Homo sapiens: one gene and its partner. The protein of the gene in region 1 purifies or fractionates together with the protein of each later gene. This does not show direct contact. Each region holds a gene or a part of one and is shown on either strand. Other genes may lie near its edges.

The links.
Region 2: the proteins of PTPN22 (region 1) and PSTPIP2 purify together in Homo sapiens (affinity purification with mass spectrometry; 2 studies listed by BioGRID and IntAct, with this or other methods). This does not show direct contact.

The regions. Positions count from the first base shown.
Region 1 is NC_000001.11:113,861,604-113,873,764, reverse strand, and holds the start of PTPN22 (tyrosine-protein phosphatase non-receptor type 22), read left to right. Parts: upstream 1-2,052; 5' UTR 2,053-2,141; coding exon 2,142-2,228; intron 2,229-9,487; exon of another isoform or gene 9,488-9,567; intron 9,568-12,161. UniProt on the Homo sapiens protein: Acts as a negative regulator of T-cell receptor (TCR) signaling by direct dephosphorylation of the Src family kinases LCK and FYN, ITAMs of the TCRz/CD3 complex, as well as ZAP70, VAV, VCP and other key signaling molecules.
Region 2 is NC_000018.10:45,983,615-45,995,775, reverse strand, and holds part of PSTPIP2 (proline-serine-threonine phosphatase-interacting protein 2), read left to right. Parts: intron 1-2,072; coding exon 2,073-2,171; intron 2,172-3,573; coding exon 3,574-3,670; intron 3,671-3,792; coding exon 3,793-3,874; intron 3,875-5,019; coding exon 5,020-5,054; intron 5,055-7,016; coding exon 7,017-7,066; 3' UTR 7,067-7,074; intron 7,075-10,325; 3' UTR 10,326-12,161. UniProt on the Homo sapiens protein: Binds to F-actin. May be involved in regulation of the actin cytoskeleton.

The DNA of each region.
Region 1 (12,161 bases):
GGATTATGCTTTGCTACTCTGCAATTAAGCAAGTTAGTTTGGAATGTTTTTATTTTTATTTTCTTTCCCAAAGTTACCTAAGGAGTGTTTTAATTTTTATCAGTAATCATGTCTGTATCTTTAGTTCTGAGTTGCTTTATTAACTGGCTAAGGATGTTTTTGTTTTGTTTTGTTTTGTTTTTACCATATTCTGGCTTTCTCAGTGTTGTATGCCAATCTCCTAAGACAATGTTTAGAATTTAGTGGGTACTCAATAAATTTGTTGAACAACTTAATGGATTTTTAAATGTTTATTTCTAATTTTAAAAACGGTATGATAATTTTAGAAAGCAAACTTTATCATAATTCTAAAATTATGATAATTTTAGAAAGCAAACTTACACAATTGATTCTTTTTTGCTTCTTTTAGTCTTTAACTATGTACACACTTTTACATGGTTTTAGTTATTACAAACTTGAAATTTTGTATTTTTATAAATCAAAGATTTCCCATATTTTATGTTTTAAAATAGCCAAAGTAAACATCACGTTACTTAGAGCAGCAAGAAATTCTCTCTTAATTCTAGATGGGGATAATTTAAGAAATATACTATTCCTAACAAATATTGCTGAAGAATGAGGGTTTATTTTAATTTATGTATACTGGGATTGAGTTTCTTAATTTGAAATATTGTCTTTAAGTTGTCTATAACCAAGATATCTCGATGATCTTTCTTTTTTTTTTGCAGTACTTAGTAAAGAGCATGCAGTATCTTTAATGTTCAGATTAAGCAGTGTTCAGAATCATGATATCCTGAAGGAAGTTTGAATAATGTTGCAAAACAGAAAGGATTGCTAATATCTTAAATAGAGGAAGTCCTAACAACACATTTCCCAGTTTTCTTCAGGATCAAGACTAATTTTGTTAACATTTGTTGAACTTCTGCCTTCAATAAAGATGATATACTGATTTTTGGATGTTCTCACACTGAATTAGGCACTTGGGTAGACTTGTACCCATTGAGAGGTTATGCAAGCTCAAATGTGGAAAGTTTTTCTAGAAGAGCCTGCCTTTCAGGGCCAAAATGCCACAGGCACAGCATAACTTCCTGAAACAAATTTATTTCCTAAGACATTGGTTGCAGAGTAGAAATGTGTTCTTTAGAAACAGTTCTTCAGGCTTTCTGCCCTAAAAGTTACAATGTTGTCAGCAAGGTGGTTGATTTTACTTTCTTTTTGTTCCATCACAGTTTACCAGCATTACATATGCAGGGTATTGAGCTAACTGTCTGGTCAGGTGCTCCTTGTGGGGGCCACTTGCTCTAGATCCTATATAGACCAACACTCTTAGTCTTTATATCCAGAACCCAAGTGAAGCTTCAAAGGTTACTGGGAGGGTTGAAGAGGTGCTGAAATCAACACTTCCCTTAATGGAGGTCAGCACTTCCCCAGTCCTGGGAGAGACACAGACTGTCAGAAGCATCTGACTTTGCTTCATTCAAAAGGGAGTTTGAGGTATATATAGCAGACTTAAAAGTTATGAATAAAAATACCTTCTGTGATGAACAGAAGTTTCTCATTGATCACACTGACAAGAAACCTTTCGATGAACAGTCCGGGTAGAAGACATGTCACTCACTCTAAACAGTGTCTGTCTTCTTTCCTGGGCCTAACTGAACTTTGCAGAGTTCATTTGGGACATAAGGAAACAGAAGGTGTCAACTTGGCCCTTGTGCTCACTGGGAAAATGGGGAGAGACAGAACTCATTCAGGAGACCTGTAATTCTGTTCTTTCTCTGGGAGGCAAGAAGAAAGGTGAGTTTTGCATATGGGTGATGGAATGGAATAATCTCAGTTAAGCAGACCACACTTTACGTTCTAGTTAGCCTCTTGTTTGTTAAAAATTTGAATTGTAACCAGGTTCCTTTGCTGAGAAGGAAGGCACTAGGGCCCTGGAGTGAGATGATGGCTGTGTTATGTGACCACAGAAGGTGGTTACGTACTAATTTCCTCTAGGGCTTGTGATGAAGTCAGTAAACCACAGCCTTCAGCATGCTCTGCTCAGGCGGCAGCAGTGGCTTTTTGGAGGTGTCTCGGCCATGACACACATTTGACATGCCCTCCCTCAACCTACTTATAGACTATTTTTCTTGCTCTGCAGCATGGACCAAAGAGAAATTCTGCAGAAGTTCCTGGATGAGGCCCAAAGCAAGAAAATTACTAAAGAGGAGTTTGCCAATGAATTTCTGGTGAGTCCTGTATGTGACCCTCTCAGGGTAGTTACATACACTATTTAACTGACTATGGGGGTCCAATTTTCCGAGACCAAATTGCTCTTGGGATAAAGTAAATATGAGACCTTGGCGGGGAAGACAGAAAAAAAAAAGTTTGACTTCTCTGAGTGGTTTGCATGTATTTCAGGTATTCTCTCAAAATTACTGGTTTTAATATTTTGTTTGCTAGTTCTTTGGAGTTTGGTTAGGAATCCTACAGAAGACATATACAACTCCAGATGTAAAAACACTAATATTAATTGAACATCCAGATTTCCCCAGGTATCTAAGTTGTGGTTTATGCTTTATATTACTAATTTTAATTAATATTAAGAAGAAAGAGACCAATGTTAACTTTTCATGCAATATTACATTTTTAGCCTCCCCTCTGGGATTCTATTTGGTTGACAAAGGTTTTTGAAGAGCACCAAAACTACCCACTGCCACAGTTTTTTTTGTTGTTGTTGTTTGTTTTTTTAAGATTCAGAATCTTACTCTGTCACCCAGGCTGGAGTGCAGCAGTGCAACCACAGCTCACTGTAGCCTTGAACTCCTGGCCTCAAGTGATTCTCTTGCCTCAGCCTCCTGAGTAGCTGGGGCCACAGGTGTGTATCGCCATGCCTGGCTAATTTAAAAAAAAATTGTTTTTTTCTTTTTTGTAGATACGAGCCTTGCTTTTTTGCCCAGGCTTGTCTCGAACTCCTGGCTTCAAGCAATCCTCCCATCTTGCCTCCCAAAGTGCTGGGATTACAGGCATGAACCACTATGTCTGGCCATCATTTTTCTTTTCTTTTTCATATGAAAAATATATTATAACATGTGTTTTTTCAATAACAGGGCTTCCTTAACTTCTTTTGCTTGGAGAAGTGGAATGGCTAGGATGGAGAGTAGAGACAAGTGTAGGTCAAGGAGAGAAACATGAGTACAAGGTAGCTTCAGGTTGGGTGGATTAGATTACCCAGAAGAACAGTGAATCTCCTTTGAGAGAACTGTGATTATTGATGCAATGGCAGCTGGGTAGGCCTCATTCACCCTACAAGCTGAGATATCAGATAACATAGGGTGTCTAATAGTACCTATCATGTATTTTAGAATGCTTACAGCTGGCGTTTCAGAGATATAAGAATTTTAAACCTTAGCTCTTCAGTTGTGAAGAAATGGGTGGAAAGAGGGGAACTGAAGTACAAACCTGAAATTAAATCATGATTTTTTTTCACCAAATTATGAAGTATTTGACATGTTCTTAAATCTCTCTGTTTTCTAACTTATAAAATGGGGATAATAATACATGTCCTACCTATCCTCACAGGATTGTTGTGATGATTAAATATCAATAACAATCATTAAATGTGGTCATTTATTGAGTACCATTTATTGAGCACTTAGTATGTACCAAGTTCAGTTCTAAGCACTAAAAATACAGCGGTGAACAAAAAGAACCAAAACCTTTGCCTCCTGGAGCTAACACTCTGGTACCGGATAGCAGATGTGAAAACACTCTGAAAGTCTTGAGTAATTAGATATTATTGAGTGATTAGATATTATGATAGGAACTCCGATGTCAGCTCAACATGGATAATCTTGTGGTACTATGAAAAATGTGCTCTCACTGCCACTGGCTGATCAGTCTGAGCCCCTCTGGTAGAGTTACCTGAAAGGAGATAAGTAGGAAGTTCTAGCACATGTGTATACATGTCCCTGCCCCTGGACTATAATTCCTAAGCCAAGGTAACCCAAGGCATAGATGTAAAAAGTGAGCTGAGGGGCAGTGCCGGCCTCTGTTTTATTTTGGTTGTGTTTTTTAAAATAATGTAGACTGGCCGGGGGCAGTGGCTCACACCTGTAAACCCAGCACTTTGGGAGGCCGAGGCGGGTGGATCACCTGAGGTCAGGAGTTTGAGACCATCCTGGCCAACATAATGAAACCCCATTTCTACTAAAAATACAAAAATTAGCTGGGCGTGGTGGCAGGCACCTGTAATCCTAGCTACTCAAGAGGTTGACACAGGAGAATCGCTTAAACTCGGGAGGCAGAGGTTGCAGTGAACTGAGATAGAGCTGTTGCACTCCAGCCTGGACAACAAGAGCGAACTTCTGTCTCAAAAAAAAAAAAATGTAGACTATATCCCTAATATTTTACCTTTTCTCAGCTAAAGTCATTATAATTTCTCACCAAAATATAGCAGCTACCTCCTAACTGGCTTCTCTGCCTCTAGCCTTGCCCCACCTTCAGTCAATTTTCAGTTCAACACCCAAGTGATCTTTTAATCATACAAATCTGGTCTTTTTTTTGGGGGCGACAAAGTTTTGCTCTTGTCACCCAGGCTGGAATGCAATGACACCATCTCGGCTCACTGCAGCCTCCACCTCCCTGGTTCAAGCGATTTTCCTGCCTCAGCCTCCCAAGTAGCTGGGATTACAGGCATGAGCCACCACGCCTGGCTAATTTTGTATTTTTAGTAGAGACAAGGTTCCACCATGTTGGCCAGGCTGGTCTGTCCAACCAGGTAATCCACTCGCCTCAGCCTCCCAAAGTACTAGGATTATAGGCATGAGCCACCACGCCCAGCCAAATCTGGTCATTTTTTCCCTGCTTAAAAACTTGTTATAGTTTTTTTTAGCTGCTTAATATTGTGCAATATAATACACATTTAGAAAAGTACATAAAACATTTAAGTATAATTATAAAGCAACCATTAGCAGTGCAACCACTACCCAAGTCAAGAAACTGTCAGACCCCCGAAGACCCATGCCCCATCAGGTCCCCTACACCCATCTGCCCCTGTCCTGTCCTACCCTGGCCAAGGGATAATCACTATCCTGACTTTTATATTAATCACTTCCTTGCTTTTCTAGCTCCTGATTTTAAGGACCTTGTTTTTGGGTAGTGATTAAGTGTAACCTCACTGTTCACTGACTCATGTCCTCCAGTGGAAAAATAGAGTCTTCCTCTCAGCTCCATCTAAAGGTTTCAGATGAGACACCAGATAGAGAGCTTTGGGGGAGTAGAGGAGTAGTGAATGAGGCTAGACTGCTTGCTTGGACAAGGTAAATACTGCCACTAAATCAGAGGGCTTTCCATCTGGTCATGTTCTGTGTCCCATCTTAAGCCCTTAATGTATTCTCCCAGGATTTTATGTTTCCGAGGTTTGAGGACTCATTCTGTGACACAAGGCCACTGTTCACTTAACTGGTGGTAACTTTAAGGGAATTATCAAAAGGCATCTCTATTTCCAGGTAGATTCCCTGAGCATCCTAACCCCTTTACCCTCTCCCCAGGTCCATGGTTCAGATTTCAGTCTCCACTTCCTTCTTGGCCATACATCTTTGTACAGAGAACAATACAGATGGCTGTCTGTATCCCCAAGTTCTACATCCTTGGATTCAACCAACTATGGATCAAAAATATTTGAAAAAAATACCAAAAATAACACAACAACAAAAAATAAAAAATATAAAGCATAACAACAATTTATCTAGCATTTACATTGTATTAGGTATTATAAGTAATGTAGAGATGATTTAAAATATACAAGAGGTCATGTATAGTATGTGTAAATACTATGCCATTTTATATGAGGGACTTGAGCATCCACAGATTTTGGTAATTGAAGGGGGTGGTCCTGGAACCAGTCCCCCACAGATACTGTGAGAGGACTGTATTCATAATTGGATGTGGCAGTCCTGTTAATGGCAGCTGAAGCCAGTGCCATGCTGCTTATGTCTTTTCCCTGTGCCAGGACTAAATTCAGTAACTTTTCTGTAGTTGAAACTACCACTGACCACCCATCTAAGGTTTTTATACATTCATATAAACATTCATTGAGTGCTTATTGTGTGCAAAGTAATGCCCTAGATGCTAGGAATGCAATGCAATGCTCCATGCTTTAGTGGAGCTTATGTTATAAGGCAATAGATATGTCTTAGAGAGGCAGACATTAAACAACTAATTGCTATATTAAATATTTAATATAATTGTGATAGTCTGGGTGAGGTGGTCAAGGAAACATCAACATTCATTTTCTTATTTACTACTCCTTAAGAAAACCCTGTGAAATAGCTACAAATGTCATTTCTGACTTACAAATGAGGAAACTGAAGCTCTGAGAAGTTAAATAATTGGCCTAAGCTCACTCAGCTGTTCAGCCATAGAGATGAAATTTAACTCAGATCTGTCTTATTACAGAGCTGTAACATTAATCCTTATCCAATAGTGTTCTACTTCATCCAATGACACTGAGTCTCTCAAAGGACCTAGTTTTAGGGTAAGTTTTAGGGTAAGGACATAGTTAGTATAGTTTCTACACAGCAGAAACAGCAGGATGCAACTATACTGTTGAAATTTCTAAAGGTATTTTCAAACGTTCCTTATTATTGTTATAAAACAATATTATTGAAAGTTAAAAGAAAGTAAACTCACCATAATACCAACATTCTAACAAATCAAAACTTTTTTTGTGGATCTTGGCCAGGTGAGGTGGCTCGCGCCTGTAATCCCAGCACTTTGAGAGGCTGAGACGAGCAGATGGCTTGAGTCCAGGAGTTCAAGACAAGCCTGGGCAACATGATGAAACCCCGTCTCCACTAAAAATAAAAAATTAGCCAGAAGTGGTGGCACATGCCTGTAATCCCAGCTACCTGGGAGGCTGAAGTGGGAGGATCACTTGACCCCAGGGGGTGGAGGGTGTAGTGAGCTGAGATTGCACCACTGCACACCAGCCAGGGAGACAGAGTGGGACCCTGTCATACACACACATGAAAACCAACAATAGCTTTTTTTGTGGATCTTCTAGTTCTTGTCCATTTATGTAAATTTTTAATATTATTGTAATTATAGCATAGATACAATTTTGTGTTCTCATATTTTCACTTACCATTATACCAAAATTATCAGGCTGATTAAAATGTATATGATTTTTAATAGTTGATGATGCAGCATCATCACATGGACATATATTTGTCTATGTGGGTTTTGTTGTTGTTGTTGTTGTTGTTGTTGTTTTGAGATGGAGTCTCACTCTGTCACCAGGCTGGAATGCAGTGGCATGATCTCGGCTCACTGCAACCACCACCTCCCGGGTTCAAGCTATTCTCCTGGCTCAGCCTCCCCAGTAGCTGGGACTACAGGAGTGTGCCACCACACCCAGCTAATTTTTGTATTTTTAGTAGAGATGGGGTTTCATCATGTTGGCCAGGATGGTCTCGATCCCTTGACCTCATGATCTGCCTGCCTTGGCCTCCCAAAGTACTGGGATTACAGGTGTGAGCCACCGCGCCCAGCCTGTCCATCTGGTTTTATAATGAAAGAATAATAATCATAATAGAGAATGCTTCTATACCTCTTACAGACACTGTTCTAAACACTCATATATAAACTCATTTGCTCCATTGAGGAAGGTACTGTTTTCATTTCCATTTTATAGGTGAGGAAACAAACAGAGAGGTCAATTAACTTGCTCAGGGTCACATAGCTAGTAAGTGGTGGAACTGAATTTCAATTTCAGGTAGTCTTGCTTTGTCATCTGAAGTCATAAAAACTTTGGAGTCATATAAATCTTGGTTTGAATTTAAGTTATGCCCATGATTAGCTATGTGACCTTGGATTAAGTCAGTAAAATGTGGGAATAATATTCACTTTGAAGAACTGCTGTGAAGATAATAAGTATATAAACTTCCTGAGACATAGTAATACCCAAATAATTTATTTCTCCATTGTTAAACAGTTATTTCTAGTTTTTCATGATTATTGATAACACTAATATGAATATATTTTTCCATGTGGTTTTTCCCTTCTTTTGGATTAATCCTTAGGCTAGATCCCCAAAAATGTTATTACTGGGTCAAAGACTATTAGCATCTAATTGGTTAAGTATTACCAAATGTATTTCCAAAGGAGTTTTTCTAATTTGCAATATATGAATTTATCATCTTCTCTACCACCTTGCTAGACTTAATAAATATAAAAGAGAATAAAAGATGAAAACATTTTGCCTACTTACTATGTACTAGGCAATCTGCTAAGTGCTTTGCCGTACGTGATCTCGTTTAATCGTTACAACTACCCCAAGAGGAAAATATTATGTTCATTTTTACCCATGAAATGGAAAAGCCCGGATTTGAAACCAGTCTGTTTTTTTTCAAAGCCTCTTAACCTCTGTACTTAAACTGTATCAGGTAAAAATCATGACTTTTTTTCTGATATAACTAGCATAAAATAGTACTTTATTATGTTAATTTCATTCATTGGATTTCTGAGCCTTAAAATGTTCCATGATTATTTTAAATCTGCATTTCCTTATATACGTTTTCTGTTCATCTACTTTCCACAGTAACAACAGCTAATCCATAGAACTGTGTTCCAGACTCTGTGCTAAAAGTGCTTCACAAATAGAACTTCATTTACCTCCCAAAGAACCTTTTAAAATGGCTATCAATGTCCTACATGGTGTCTCTCCAGCTTCTTATAGCATGCTCATTTTCTTGTCCTTGCCATGCTTCCTCTGCCATAGGGCCTTGCACACATGTTGTTACCTCCGCCTTGAACATTCCTCACACTCCTCTTTACCTAGATAACATTTGGTAATTTTTTTTTTTTTTTTTTGAGACGGAGTCTCGCTCTGTCACCCAGGCTGGAGTGCAGTGGCACGATCTCTGCTCACTGCAACCTCTGCCTCCTGGGTTCAAGTTATTCTCCTGCCTCAGCCTCCTGAATAGCTGGGACTACAGGTGTGTGTCACCATGCCCGGCTAATTTTTTGTGTTTTTAGTAGAGACAAGGTTTCACTGTGTTAGCCAGGATGGTCTCTCGATCTCCCGACCTCGTGATCTGCCCACCTTGGCCTCCCAAAGTGATTATAGGCGTGAGCCACCATGCCTGGCCTTTTTTTTTTTTTTTTTTTGAGACAGGGCCTCACTTGGTCATCTAGGCTGGAGTGCAGTAGTGTGATCATGGCTTACTGCAGCCTCAACCTCTAGGGTTCCCATCTCAGCCTCCCAAAGTGTTGAGATTACAGGTGTGAGCCACCATGCCCGACTAATAATTCTTTAGATCTCAATTTGGTGGTCAATTCTTCAAAGAAAGCTTTCTTTTCTTTTCTTCTTTTCTTTCTTTTTTTTTTTTTCTGGAGACAGGGTCTTGCTCTGTCACCCAGGCTGGAGTGCCGTGGCTTGATCATAGCTCACTGCAGACTTGACTTCCTGGACTCAAGTGATCCTCCAGCCTCAGCCTCCCAAAGTGCTGAGATTACAACCATGAGCCACCACACCTGGCCAGAGAAAGCTTTCTGGACCTCTTTGAATAGATCAAATCTTCTATTGTAAGTTCTTATTAGCACCATTTGTTATTTTTCATAGCACTTACCACAATTTCAGTTTTTTGTTTGTTTGTTTGTTTGTCTGTTTTGAGATGGAGTTTTGCTCTTTTTGCCCAGACCAGAGTGCAATGGTGCGATCTTGGCTCACCGCAAGTGACTCTCCTATCTCAGCCTCCCGAGTAGCTGGGATTGCAGGCAAAGTTGCAGTGAGCCGAGATCGCGCCACTGCACTCTAGCCTGGATGACAGAGTGAGATCCCATGTCAAAAAAAAATATATATATATATATATATATTTATTAAATATAAAGGATTCATTGAATCCTAACAGAAAGAAGATACCTAGTTCTGAAGGCCAGGTTTAGGTGCTAACAGTTTAAACTATACTAGAAATCAGACTGGTACTATTGCAACTTCTGGAGATTCATTAGAAGACCAGAGACATATCAAAGATCTGGCTACATCTTGGTTCTATAAAGGAGACATAGATACATCCTGGTTCTGTGTATATTATAGTAATGATACTAACCAAACAGTTATCAACAAGGTACTTCCTACAGAGCAAGTGCACAAACATCTATGAATTGACACTACTCATTCCTGTGAATCAGCCTATCACTTGAACATATTTATCAGCATTTCTTGACCTTTGTGCACATTAAGGTGCAATTTTTAAAAATGCCACCACCAGAATAAATGTATCACATCACCTCTGAAGCTGATTTCTCTAACACCATCTCCAGCCTCTCACTAGGGACCATCTAGTCCTACATTTTCATTTACTCACAGGACACTTAAAACACATTTCTTGGCTGAGCGCAGCGGCTCACGCCTGTAATCCCCACACTTTGGGAGGCTGAGGCAGGCGGATCACTTGAGGTCAAGAGTTCAAGACCAGCCTGGCCAACGTGGTAAAACCCTGTCTCTAATAAAAATACAAAAGTTAGCTGGGCATGGTGGCAGGTGCCTGTAATCCCAGCTACTCAGGAGGCTGAGGTGGGAGGATCACTTGAACCTGGGAGGCAGAGGTTGCAGTGAGCCAAGATTGCGCCACTGAACTCTCTGCTGGGTGACAAGGCAAGATTCTGTCTCAAAAACCAACCAACCAACCAACAACACACACATTTCTTGCCATTTTCTCACATTTTATGTATCTAAAGTTGAACCTCTTGGTTTACTCACCCCAATTTAGCTATTGCCTACCCACCTACCCATTTGCCCCACTATTGCACTGGAAACTAACCTCGATAAGTTTGTCAGTCTTGTTGAAGATGATTGCATTGCACGCTCGTACAATTCAGTCTTGTCCTCCATTCCTACTGGTAGTTCTCCTGATTACTGGATTTAGAAGCCTGAGCTCCTAATGCCATTCCTTACCACTTGTACTTCTTCTGTCCTGATGGAGGCTTGGTATAATACTGACCTATATTTGCAAGGCACTGAGGAACTACCTTGCAGAGTTCTCGAGACAGCCAAACTTTGTGTTCTCCCACCTAGCACAGGAGGGCCAAGTTTAATTTTCCTCTCCCTAAAATGTATCTAAAATGCTACGTCTTCTATCCAGTAATGTAGTCCTTCAAGGCAAAGATATCGTGGTCTTGTGCTTTCTTTTACTTTCTGTTCTTTTTTGGGAGTGACTTTATTTTATTTACTAGTCTGTGAGAATAACATGCAAATGACTCAATCCGAATTTCTAGAATCTAATACTCCTTGTTATACTGGCCAGGATCCCCATTCTCCTCTCCTTTCTTGAAACGAAAGGGGTAGTATCATCTACAAACCAAATGAACTTACTATTAGCTTATCAAGCACACACAGAATCTGGTTTCTCACACATTCCACCCTATTTCAGGGCCCACGAGGGATGTTGAGCTCTCTCTTCACTTTATTCTCTTTTTTATTTTTATTTTTATTTTTTTTGAGGCGGAGTCTCACACTGTCACCCAGGCTGGAGTGCAGTGGTGTGATCTCAGCTTACTGCAATCTCTGCCTTCCAGGTTCAAGCGATTCTCCTTGCCTTAGCCTCCTGAATAGCTGGGATTACAGGGGTCTGCCACCATGCCCAGCTAATTTTTTTTGTATTTTTGGTAGAGACGGGGTTTCACTATGCTGGCCAGGCTGGTCTCGAACTCCTGACCTAGTGATCTGCCTGCCTCGGCATCCCAAAGTGCTGGGATTACAGGTGTGAGCCACCGCACCCAGTCTCTTCACTTTATCCTCTTGGCAACTATTCCCCTGACTTCTCTTGATGGTACTTCCTCTAGGGAACTCACACCCCTACCTTGTAGTTGGCAAAGAAATACCTTCACCCTTTAGATCTCATATCTTTTCTTCACAAACTTAAACCCATCCCCATGACCCTGCTTCCTCTTTTATACCCTTTTGCTTTCTACTTTCAGGGTTCCTCCTTTTCTGGTGTAGTTTATTACTTTTTCTGCCCTAATTTTGCCCTAATTTGTTCTTTCTTGGGATATTGGAGCCCGGGAGTCTGGCAGGAAGAGAGGTGGAAGAGAAAAATGAAGCCTGCCGGGCGCGGTGGCTCATGCCTATAATCCCAGCACTTTGGGAGGCCGAGGTGGGGGGATCACTTGAGGTCAGG
Region 2 (12,161 bases), on another chromosome or scaffold:
CTACTACCCCCGCCCTTCTTCACAGCCACGCTTTTTGAAGGGGCTGTCTCCAAGTCCATGTTGTCCTGACTGCCCCAGCCTGCAGCATCTGGGATTTGCTTCCCTGCAGCTGCTGTCTTGGAGGGCACCAGAATCCCTTGGCATGAGGGCCAGTGGGCCTTTGCAGTTTCTAATCTTATTTGATCTCTCTTTGCCATCTGATACTGTAGGTTATTATGCTTCTCCTAAAACACTGTTTTCTGCTTTACTTCTGTAACTCCACACTCTTAGGGGAAAGCCTAGAATGAGGCCATTTTTTAATAAGGTTTAAAAACATGTAAAGCAATATCATGTACATATACAGATACATATATAGTGTAAAAACCTGCATAAAGGCCAGGTGCGGTGGCTCACACCTATAATCCCAGCACTTTCAGAGGCTGATGCGGGTGGATTGCTTGAGCCCAGGAGTTCAAGACCAGCCTGGGCAACACAGCGAAATTTTGTCTCTACAAAGAAATATAAAAATTAGCCGGGCATGGTGGTAGAGGCTACTTGGGAACCTGAGGCGGGAGAATTGCTTGAGCCCACGAGTTTGAGGCTGCAGTGAGCCATGAGCGCACCACTGCTCTCCAGCCTGGGTGACAAAGTGAGACCCTGTCTCAAAACAAAACAAAATAAAACCCCCCAAAACCAAACAACGAAACAACCCCTTCCCCATAAAAAACAAAACAAAACAAAACAAACCCTGCATAGGAATGATACAATTCAGGATAATGGCTATCTGGGGAAGGAGGAAGGTGATAGAAACTGGGTAAATCACACAGGGGCTTTTACAGAATCTGAAAAAATATGGCTGAAGTTTTTGACAAAGCTAGGTAGTTGGTATATAGGTATTTATTATACTGCTTTCTGATTCTATGTGAAATATTCCATAACAACAATAATGTAATATTATTAAATTATTATACTATGTTATATAGATATAAAAATATTTAGAGGTGAAATAATGCATTTGCTTCAAAATACTCCAGAGAGTAGGGTAATTGGTAGAGATATAGATAAAATAGAATCGGTTGTGAGTTGATAAATGTTTAAGCTGGTGATGAGTACATAGGGATTCATCATACTATCTGTACCTCTCTACACTTGTATATGTTGGAAGTTTTGTTTTATTTTATAACAAGTTTTAAAATGTAGCAAATTTTAAAAGGCATTCAAAATTTTTTGGTTTTGAATAAAACCTGTAGTATGAGATATGAAATTGAATCAGAAACTGTGGGGGTAGAGCTCAGCAATCTCTATGCTAATAAACCTTCCAAGTGATTCTGATGTGAATTCAAGTATGAGAACCACTTATAGCTATACCTGTCCCCATCCTTTTCTCCTCATAGAGTGGAAAAGGGGCTGTGGTATATAAAAGCTATGGTATGTAAAATTCATTCATGTTAAAAATAGCTATGGTATTCAATATTTTAAAAATACACTGATGTATCACATCCACTGTTGAATAGAATACCATCTGCTTCATAGAACAGCTTGATTTTTTTAAAGGTGATATTTGTTTATATCCAAAATACTGTATCTCAGGCAATGACTTTTATTTTAACCCTTTTTTTAAGGAAAAACAATTAAACATACACAAAGACAGAAGACAAGTACACGGCCTCCCATGTACTCATCAATCAGCATCAACAATTATGACCATCTTGCCAGTCAAACTCATTCATTCCAGGGTGGGAGGGGCAGCATTTTGAATCTGAGGCTCTGGCAGGCTGCTCAGGTGGAGATGATGTTAGATAGTTGGAAATGTCGGTAGGAACTCAGTTAGAACATTGGTATCTGGGATCATCATTACTTTTTACCCTCAGAACTATTTCCAAGCCTGTTTGTGTTACTGTGATATTAGGATTTGTTTGCATTCTTTGTGATATGAGTTTATGAGTTTCCTCAGTGGTGGGGGAGAAGCATTCTAAATTGGACAATAAGTTTACAGATAACTGAAGGTTGACACTGTTTCTTAAGTCACAGCTAGCCAAAATGAATGGTCCTTTTCCTTGCATATCTATGTACACGTAGCTATTTTTCTGTAGGCATTTGAGGCTCAAGAATGTGAACGAATAAACTTCTTCCGGAATGCATTGTGGTTACATGTGAATCAGCTGTCACAACAATGTGTCACCAGTGATGAAGTAAGTCAGAGGCATCCACTGAGGATTGTCGTGTGCATGTTGGATACATTAGAGTAGAAGGAACTATAGATATTGATTGGTTCACTTTGCCCTTGGTGAAGTAAGGTGACTTGCCTAAGGCCATACAGTGAGTTGACAGAAGGATGCAGATAACATGTAACCTGACTCCTGGCTCATTTGCCACCATGATTTTCTCATTAAGAGATTCATGGCTGGGAGCGGTGGTTCACTCCTGTAATCTCAGAACTTTGGGAGGCTGAGACGGGTGGATCACCCGAGGTCAGGAGTTTGAGACCAGCCTGGCCAACATGGTGAAACTCCGTCTCTACTAAAAATGCAAAAATTAGCTGGGCATGGTGGTGCACCCCTGTAATCCCAGCTACTCAGGGGGCTGAGGTGGGAGAATTGCTTGAACCCAGGAGGCGGAGGCTGCAGTGAGCCAAGATCGTGCCACTGCACTCCAGCCTCGGCGACACAGTGAGACTCCATCTCAAAAAAAGAAAAAAAATTCAGCCAAGGCTTTTGTCCTGCCACAAAGATACATTTTCTGTCATCTTTAAAAAATTAATAGTAAATGTAGGCTGGGCACGGTGGCTTACACCTGTAATCCCAGCACTTTGGGAGGCCAAGGCAGGCGGATTGCCTGTGGTCAGGAGTTCGAGACCAGTCTGGCCAACATGGTGAAACCCCGTCTCTACTAAAAATGCAAAAAAAATTAGCCAGACGTGGTGGCATGTGCCTCTAATCCCAGCTACTTGGGAGGCTGAGGCAGGGGAATTGCTTCAGCCAGGGAGGTGGAGGTTGCAGTGAGCTGAGATTGCACCACTGCACTGCACTGCAGCCTGGGTGACAGAGCGAGACTCTGTCTAAAAAAAAATAATAAAATAAAAAATAAAAAATTAATAGCAGATGTGCATCAGAGAAAAGCTCCAATATGAATCTGGGACTTTGGAATGTGTTCTTTTTTTTTGAAAACAAGAAAATTTGGAAGAGTCAGCTCTCTATCAAACCCATGTTTTTTTGTTTTTTTGTTTTTTTTTTTGAGACGGAGTCTCGCACTGTCGCCTGGGGTTGGAGTGCAGTGGTGTGATCTTGGCTCACTGCAATCTCCACCTCCTGGGTTCAAGTGATTCTCCTGCCTCAGCTTCCCAAGTAGCTGGGATTACAGGCGCCTGCCACCATGCCTGGCTAATTTTTTGTATTTTAAACAGAGATGGGGTTTCACTATGTTGGCCAGGCTGGTCTCGAACTCCTGACCTTGTGATCCGCCCACCCCAACCTCCCAAAATGCTGGGATTACAGACATGAGCCACTGCGCCCCGCCTCAAACCCATGTTTTTAAGGAGCTGTGTCACAATGATCTCAACATACCTCTACCTATTAATTGACCTTTTTTTATTAGATGTACGAACAAGTCCGAAAGAGTTTAGAAATGTGCAGCATTCAGAGGGACATTGAATACTTTGTGAATCAACGCAAAACTGGACAGATTCCACCAGGTGAATGGGGCAGTGGGGTGGGGAGTGTTATTTACACAATTCTATTAGCCTTTCTTGTTAGATGTCATTAAGGATGAAAGACGCCTGCCTCTTCATGTCCTGTTTCTTGGTGACTCTCCTAGCACCCATCATGTATGAGAATTTCTACTCCTCCCAGAAGAATGCAGTCCCAGCAGGAAAGGCTACAGGGCCTAACTTGGCAAGGTAATAACCAGCTGCCTTTCATATGAAGAAAAATACTTTTAACAAACATTGTTATCATGAATGTTCTAAGACATGTTAGAATTGGAACATATCTACTACTGCATCTGCTTAATAAGGCTGCTTGCTTTTTGGAAATAGTATTTTTAGGACAAATATTAAGTGGATTTTAATAGTCATAGTTCAGGGAGGAGTATATCATGCTTGAACTTGATCATTGTTATTCATGGATGAATCCTATACTTTTCTTATAGTCTGTAGAAATCCTATACTTTTCTTACAGCCAGTCAGCAAACTATGGCCCCTGAGAGTTAAATCCATTTTTATAGGGCCTGTGAGTTAAGAATAGTCTTTACATTTTTAAATGGCTGGAAAAAAGTCAAGACAATACTGTTTTGTGACATGTGAGAATTATTTGAATTTCAAATTTCAGTGTTCCTCTATCAAGTTTTATGGGCACACAAGCACCCTCACTCACTGAGGTTTTGTCTATGGCTGCTTTGCCACTAGAGTTGAGTAGAGTTGCAAGAGAGACGGGAGGTGGCCAGCAAAGTCTAAATCATTTACTACTTGGCCCTTTACTCAAAAAGTTCGCTGCCGTTCATGTAAAGGATCCTGCGGAAAGAGAAACTTCTGTTTGACATAGTCAGCTTGCAGTCTAAGCTTTTGAATTTTCACTCCAGTTTTAGTAAAGATGGGGAGTGCCTGGGAAGGATTGCATGATCATTATCAGTATTTAAGCGTGTCAGGCACTGTTCAAAACAGTTAGTGTGAATTACCTGATTTAATCCCCACAATGAGGTGGGAGCTGTTTATACTTCCTATTTTACTTATGAGGATGCGGATGTTCAAGGCACTCAGGAAGTCTTTCCTACCCAGCTAAGATTTTAATCCTGCCAGTCCGGGTTGTGGGGATAAGGCTCTGTGCTCCTAATCACTATGCATGCTGCCTCTTGCCATAGTACGACGTCTGCAACTTAGATTTCCGTAGGTCAGTGCTACAGATCATTTGCTTTAGGTGAGCTTTCTTGACCCTCCAGTGCAGAAACCAGATCTGATTAGAGTACAATAGGCTTGTAGCAAGAAGTAAAAAGATTATAAAAATAACAAGAACTTATCTAAAATACTTTGGTTTTCATTTCTTACAGGAGAGGACCCCTCCCAATTCCTAAAAGCTCACCAGGTATGCCACTAAAAAAGGTCTTTTGAAATTCTTATATTGCAAGGCAGGCAGATCACTTGAGGTCAGGAGTTTGAGACCAGCCTGGTCAACATGGTGAAACCCTGTCTCCACTAAAAATACAAAAATTAGCTGGGTGTGGTGGTGCGTGCCTGTAATCCCAGCTACTCAGGAGGCTGAGCCACAAGAATTGTTTGAACCTGGGAGGTGGAGGATGCAGTGAGCCAAGATTGCACCACTGCACTCCAGCCTGGTGACAGAGTCAAACTGTGTCAACAAACAAACAAACAAACAAACAAAAAAACCCCAAAAAACCCACGAAATTCTTATATTGGGTTTTCTTTAAAATTAAATAGCTAGAACTTTGAAATAAAGGGAATGAAAGGATTAAATAGAATCAAATTCCCAAGAGAATGAGCCTATATTAGAATCTTACTATAATACTACTTGTCACAGAGTGGAATATGATAATTGGTGGTCTATTTTATAGCTTATCCAAGATAATTCAGTTACTGAAATACCAAAAGAAACTTATTGCAAGCAGATTTTACCTAAAAGATTATTTCAACTTGGACTGTGAGAACAGCAGAACTGAGATATAGTTCCCCTTGGATTACATAGAAATACAATTTATAGAAGGCATCGATGTCAAGAAACGTGTCACTTAATGTTATCTTTAATGAGACCTTTCACTAATCACAGTAGTCTTTTTCTTTCTTTGAACGCCTATGATATCTCTGGGAGAAGTACACATCTTAGCACTTCTTATTAGTTGTATGGGATGTGAGGGCAGTCTGGCTGCAACATTTGTCAGCCCATTGATTGCTAGGGTTGATTCGGTGCATCCGGCTGGCTAAGCGGGTGTCCCCTTCCTCCCTCACCAGTCCGTGTGCATCCCTCCCGAAGCTACGTGCTCAAAGAGGATGATCATTTCTGATAGAGGAGGGCCAGTCTTTGGTCAAGAGTATATGAGTAGCTGCATTCCCCTGCAGCTACTCCAAACAAGCTCTCATTAGTTGTATGCCTTGAATAATAAGAAGATCCCAAGGTCAGGTACAACTTTGTCTTCTGTATTACTCACAACAGCTGACACAGTTCTGAGTACATAGTAGGTGTTCAACATATATTTATTATTTGAGTAAAGAAAAGATATACCTATCCATGTTCAAGAGAATGAGTGTACTAGTCTGTTTACATGCTGCTGATAAAGACATACCCAAGACTGGGAAGAAAAAGAGGCTTAATTGGACTTACAGTTCCACATGGCTGGGGAAGCCTCAGAATCATGGCGGGAGGTGAAAGGCACTTCTTACATGGTGGTGGCAAGAGAAAATGAAGAAGATGCAAAAGCGGAAACCACTGATAAAACCATCAGATCTCGTGAGACTTATTCACTACCAGGACAACATTGTGGGGGAAACTGCCCCCATGATTCAAATTATCTCCCACTAGGTCCTTCCCACAACGGTGGAAATTATGGGAGATACAATTCAAGATGAGATTTGGGTGGGGACACAGAGCCAAAACCTATCAATAAGGGAGGAGGACAGTTTATGCTGCACTTAACAGTTCACTAAAAATTTAGTGATGGAAAAAAAACTGTAGTGGCTGAAATTATATCTTTGAACAATATGAAGATTTAAGGTATTTTATTTCTTGTTGTTTTAGAATTACCACTTGGTAATGTAGGATGCTATTTCTGTCCATTTTTAAAGATGATTTTACTGTGGGTACTGTACCTGAGCATGGATGAAAAAGGGCAAAGAAGTCAGAATAGTGATTTCCAGAATGTCCTCTGGTTTGGAGTCGTGACTACCATTTATAGTTTTTGTTGGCAGATCTATTTTCTCTTTACAAAAGGATAGACACCAGAATCTGTAAGTGAAATGCCCTGGCTTGAAAAGGGTGAGATCTTATTATGAAAAATTGATGTTACTGTTGTTTTCTGTGTTCTGCCTTTTGCAGATGATCCCAATTACTCTTTGGTTGATGACTACAGTTTGCTCTATCAGTAAAATCAATGGTAAGAACCTTTATTTTTCACATAATTGAGTCATGTGTAGACTGGTAATTGTGCTATTGAAGCCTTTGAACCTTATTTATAACACTACCACAAACTAGCAAGGCCTTGCATGAGGCAGGTACACTGGCCAGCATGCTGTCCCTTCAGGACACCTCTGTGGATCCCACAGCTGGAAGCAGACTGGAGACCCCTCCATACCTATTTGAATGAGGTTATTTTTCCTTCATTGATTATTCCACAGTAACTCTTTATCTGCTTTTTTTTTTCGAAGCAGAGTCTCGCTGTGTCACCCAGGCTGGAGTGCAGTGGTGCGATCTCAGCTCACTGCAATCTCCACATCCTGGGTTCAAGTGATCTTCCCACCTCAGCCTCTTGAGTATCTAGGATTACAGGCATGCACCACCACACCCAGCTAATATTTTTTGTATTTTCAGTAGAAACAGGGCTTCACCATGTTGGCCAGGCTGATGTTGAACTCCTGACCTGAAGTGATCTGCCCACCTCAGCCTCCCAAAGTGCTGGGATTACAGGCATGAGCCACCATGCCCAGCCCTCTTTATCTGCTCTTATTAAGCTCTTTTATAGTTATTACACACCTGGATTTAAGGCAGTGCTCATCAACAAAACACACATCATCCTCACTGTTAAAGTAATTTAGATTTTAGCTTACTCTCCCACCATCTAAAAGAGGAAAAGTCAAATAAAAAGAAGTGCAAATGATATCACACTCATTATACACACAAGGTCATCATGGAGGTCATCCTGCAGATTATTATTGCTCTGAATAAGCAAACCATGAGGATTCTTAGACGAGGACTGAACACTGCTAAGCCAACTGTAGCTGCAAAGATATACTGCATGGTGACTTTTTCTTAGGCACTCAGGTGCTTGGAACATTCTCCAAGTCAAAATCATTCTTCACAGATGTGAAGAAATGCCTCAGAAGCCAAAGTAGCGATACTAAAAAAAACTCTTCATAAAGTATCATTCTTTTACCCCAGTGGGCTTATCTTGGGGTAAAAGAATTATATAGGTACACACGAGCTAAGAAAAGGTCTGAAGAGATATATTCCTAAATAGGTAATATTTTTCCTTCCTGTTTTTGAATTTGTCTGCAATGAAAATGTGTTACTGCTTTGACTAAAAACTGTTTTAAAGGGTTGATCCACTTACATATTCCTGATCTCAGTGTGGACTGAGCTACACTTCTGAACTACACGTCTTCGCATTTCTTGTTAGTTGTATGCCCTGGATAACAGTATCAGAAGACCAAGTGGCAGGCAGTGGGTGGGTGGGATGCCAGAAGTCAACAGAGAAAGGCAACAGCCTCTCTCTCACCCTTCCTGGTTTGGTGTTGGTTACATATACTGTCATTTATCAACCTAAACAGATTTTAACAGTGCTCCAGGGTGATTTTCTATAGCGTTCTATACCACCAAAGTGAGCACATCAAACATTGTTTGTCTCCAGTCCTCTAAAAACACCTACTTTGTGACTTATAGCCAACTGGCTATCTAGGACAGATGCCAACTTGTCCTAATTACATAAAAATAATCAGCTAATGACTGGGCACAGTGGCTCACGCCTGTAATCCCAGCACTTTGGGAGGCTGAGGCAGGTGGATCACTTGAGACCAGCCTAATCAACATGGTGAAACCCCATCTCTACTAAAACAAACAAACAAAAAATACAAAAAAGTAGCCAGCCATGGTGGCAGGCACCTGTAGCCCCAGCTACTTAGGACCCTGAGGCAGGAGAATCACTCGAACCCAGGAGGTGGAGGTTGTAGTGAGCTGAGATTGCGCCACTGCACTCCAGCCTGGGCGACAGAGCAAGACTCAGTCAAAGGAAAGAATCAGCTGGTTTCTATTATATTTAAACATAAGTCCTTAAATTGCTTAATATAATTGCTTAATATATTTAATATTTAAGCAACTTTGCTATAAAATATATGGAACTTGAAGACATAAAGTACCCTGTTCTTTAACTATATATAACTTAGGACCTACAAATCTACAAATAGATGCTAGTCTTTACAATCAGTCATCATTTCTTCTTCATTTCATAAGCCTCCCTCTTTCTCATGGAAAGGGGCAAGGCCCTAGTTAGAGGCAGAGTGGAAACCTGGTAAATCAATGACTTGGAATTCAGATGTGGCACCTGCTCTCTGGAGCACTGTGTAGATGATGGGCAGGTCACTGGCAGTCCTAAGTGTTTCTTTTTATTTTTTACCTTTTTCTTTTCTGTTCTTACTTGTTTGGGTAAAGAATATATTCTAGTAGCTTAATAGTACCACTTGACCCAACAACTGTAGTTCCTCAGAGTCTAAGAGTGTGATGTTTGAATGCAAGATGCTAGTGCCAACACATGTACTTGAGTTATATCATTTCACTGGAGTTCACTGGAATCTGTGCCAGTTCAATGAGTTGGGGTTCAACATATACATCAATTTCAGAAAATTTTACTAAAGGGAGTATACAACACATTCATATTCAGTATACAACATATACTGAATTTCAGAAAATTTTAAAGAAGGAAGTCTAATTTAGTGAATAACTTACTAAGCAACTTATCACAACAATTAAAATAGTTTGAATGAACTTTTGGAAAATAAATTTAAACAGGGTCCCGGTACGGTGGCTCATGCCTGTAATTCTAGCACTTTGGGAGGCCAAGGCGGGCGGATCACCTGAGGTCAGGAGTTTGAGACCAGCCTGGCCAACATGGTGAAACCCTATCTCTACTAAAAATACAAAAACTAGCCAGGCACAGTGGCGGGTGCCTGTAATCCCAGCTACTTGGGAGGCTGAGGCAGGAGAATCACTTGAACTTGGGAGGCGGGGGTTGCAGTGAGCTGAGATTGCGCCACTGCACTCCAGCCTGGGTAACACAGCAAGACTCTGTCTCAAAAAAAAAAAAAATTTAAACAAGAAGAGTTAGGAATTTGTGATTTGTTTTGTAGTTGTTGATTTTAGCTGCTATTCCTGTTGTTAATTCTAACATGTTTAGGTAAAGATAGATTAAAAATTTCAAATTTGAAATATGTATAAAAATGTAAATGTATGTATTATTTACCATAAAGCAATGCTGTTATCGTCACATTCCATTTCTCATTGCTTGGAATACCCATTCCTCACCATTTGTTTTCCTTGGCCTGCACCCTTATTCTTGTTGAATATACTCTCAAGGTAGGAGAGAGTATTGACAAGCACCTTTCATTCAGAGGAAATTTCTTTGTTATTTTCTTTCAGAAACCAGAGCTTTTTCCGGCTAGTGCTTCTGTGATATGGAAAGGGCACCCAGAGCAGCAGGACCTATAGCCACGTTATGTCAGCAATGAAGACTTTGAAGTGAACCCTTGCTATAATTTTTTAGAGATTTAAAATTTATGGTAGACATTTAGGACAACATAAGCAAGTAGAGTTCTGCAGTTTTTTGAAGTTTACAAATTGCCCCATTCTGAAGAATTATTCTTTCCCAGTTACTCAGGTTATGAATGAATTAGGTTTTCAACATGGGAAGCATGAAATCCACTTCTGGATTTGGAGCATCCACTTGAGGAGCAGAGGTGGCAGCAGAGGATTCTGAGCCACCAACTGCAGTAGTGGCTCCTTTGGCTTTGGGCAGCCTGGCTGTGGAGTTTCCACGGCGACACACAGCCTCAGTGGTGCAAGATTTAAAATTACCTTCCTTTTTGGCTGGAAGACTTAGAAGCCGCCTGATCATACTTTCTCATTTTACAGATGAGGAAATAAAGCCTACAAGTGTGAAATTAATTTCCTTACAGTTTTCCTAGCTGATGAGGGACAGAACCAGAACTAGAGCCTGAGCCCAACCCACATCACTATTCTTCTAACCCTTCCTGAAGTTGTGATGCTCATGCTGAAATTTAAGATGCCAAATATTTTTGCCAGCACTTTTTCAGTTGGGAGAATCACCAGGGTTTAAATGTCAGATTTATTTTTATGTGGATCCCTGTGTATGCTGAACTACAGAGCATGATGTTTAATCTAATTTAAGGAGCCACTGATTGTAAAACATGCCATTATTTTATGTTGCACTAAGAAGGTGGGGTCGAGGAGTTGCCAATAAACTTGGGACAGACTATTGATGGCCAAGCCCATCTGAATTTAAGATGCTAAAGTATGAAAAAAATACATCTTAGAATCAATGAAATACCATATTTTGATTCCATTCCTCAAGATAATTTTAGAGTTATAAAACCAGTCCTCAATTTTGGGTCTTCACAGAGAATCTTTCCCTTGCTAGACCCCAGAATTTTAAATGCATCCGTCTTACACTTTCACAAATATTTGGGTTTTCCTTTTTCACTCACAAACAGCAGGGAGGTCATGTACTTTTTGTACAACACCTGTGCACTATGAGAAAATGGTACCTTTTAGTTATTGACAAGTTAAAATAGCACTCTCAGTTTTTCAGTATTACAGAGAGCAAATAGTTTCCTCTCCTGCTCTGTGCAGTAGCTTTTCCAGAACTATGGACAAATTGATCAGAAGAAGATTGATTATTTCCTCATCTTTTTTTCTTTTTTTTGAGACAGAGTCTCTCTCTGTCCCCCAGGCTGAAGTGCAGCGGCATGATCTCAGCTCACTGCAACCTCTGCCTCCCGGGTTCAAGTGATTCTCCTGCCTCAGCCTCCTGAGTAGCTGGGATTACAGGCACCCACCACCACACCTGGCTAATTTTTTGTATTTTTAGTAAAGACAGGGTTTTACCATGTTGGTCAGGCTGGTCTCAAACTCCTGACCTCAGGTGATCCACCTGCCTCGGCCTCCCAAAGTGCTGGGATTACAGGCGTGAGCCACTGCGCCCGGCCTATTTCCCCACCTTTCGTGTAAGGTGCTACTGAACATGACAGCTTCTTGTCATGACAGGAAACTTGCATCAGTTGGATATCCTTTTGAGAAACTGAATTTTGCAAAGGGCCAAATTTCCCCAAACTGAACGGGCTCAGGAAATGTTCCTTTACACTCAGAACATTCTATTTTAAGTATATTATTTATTGTTGGCAGTTCCTCAGGGATTTCCCTTTTCTCTGTATTGGTCAGTGTAGTTGATGTAAAACC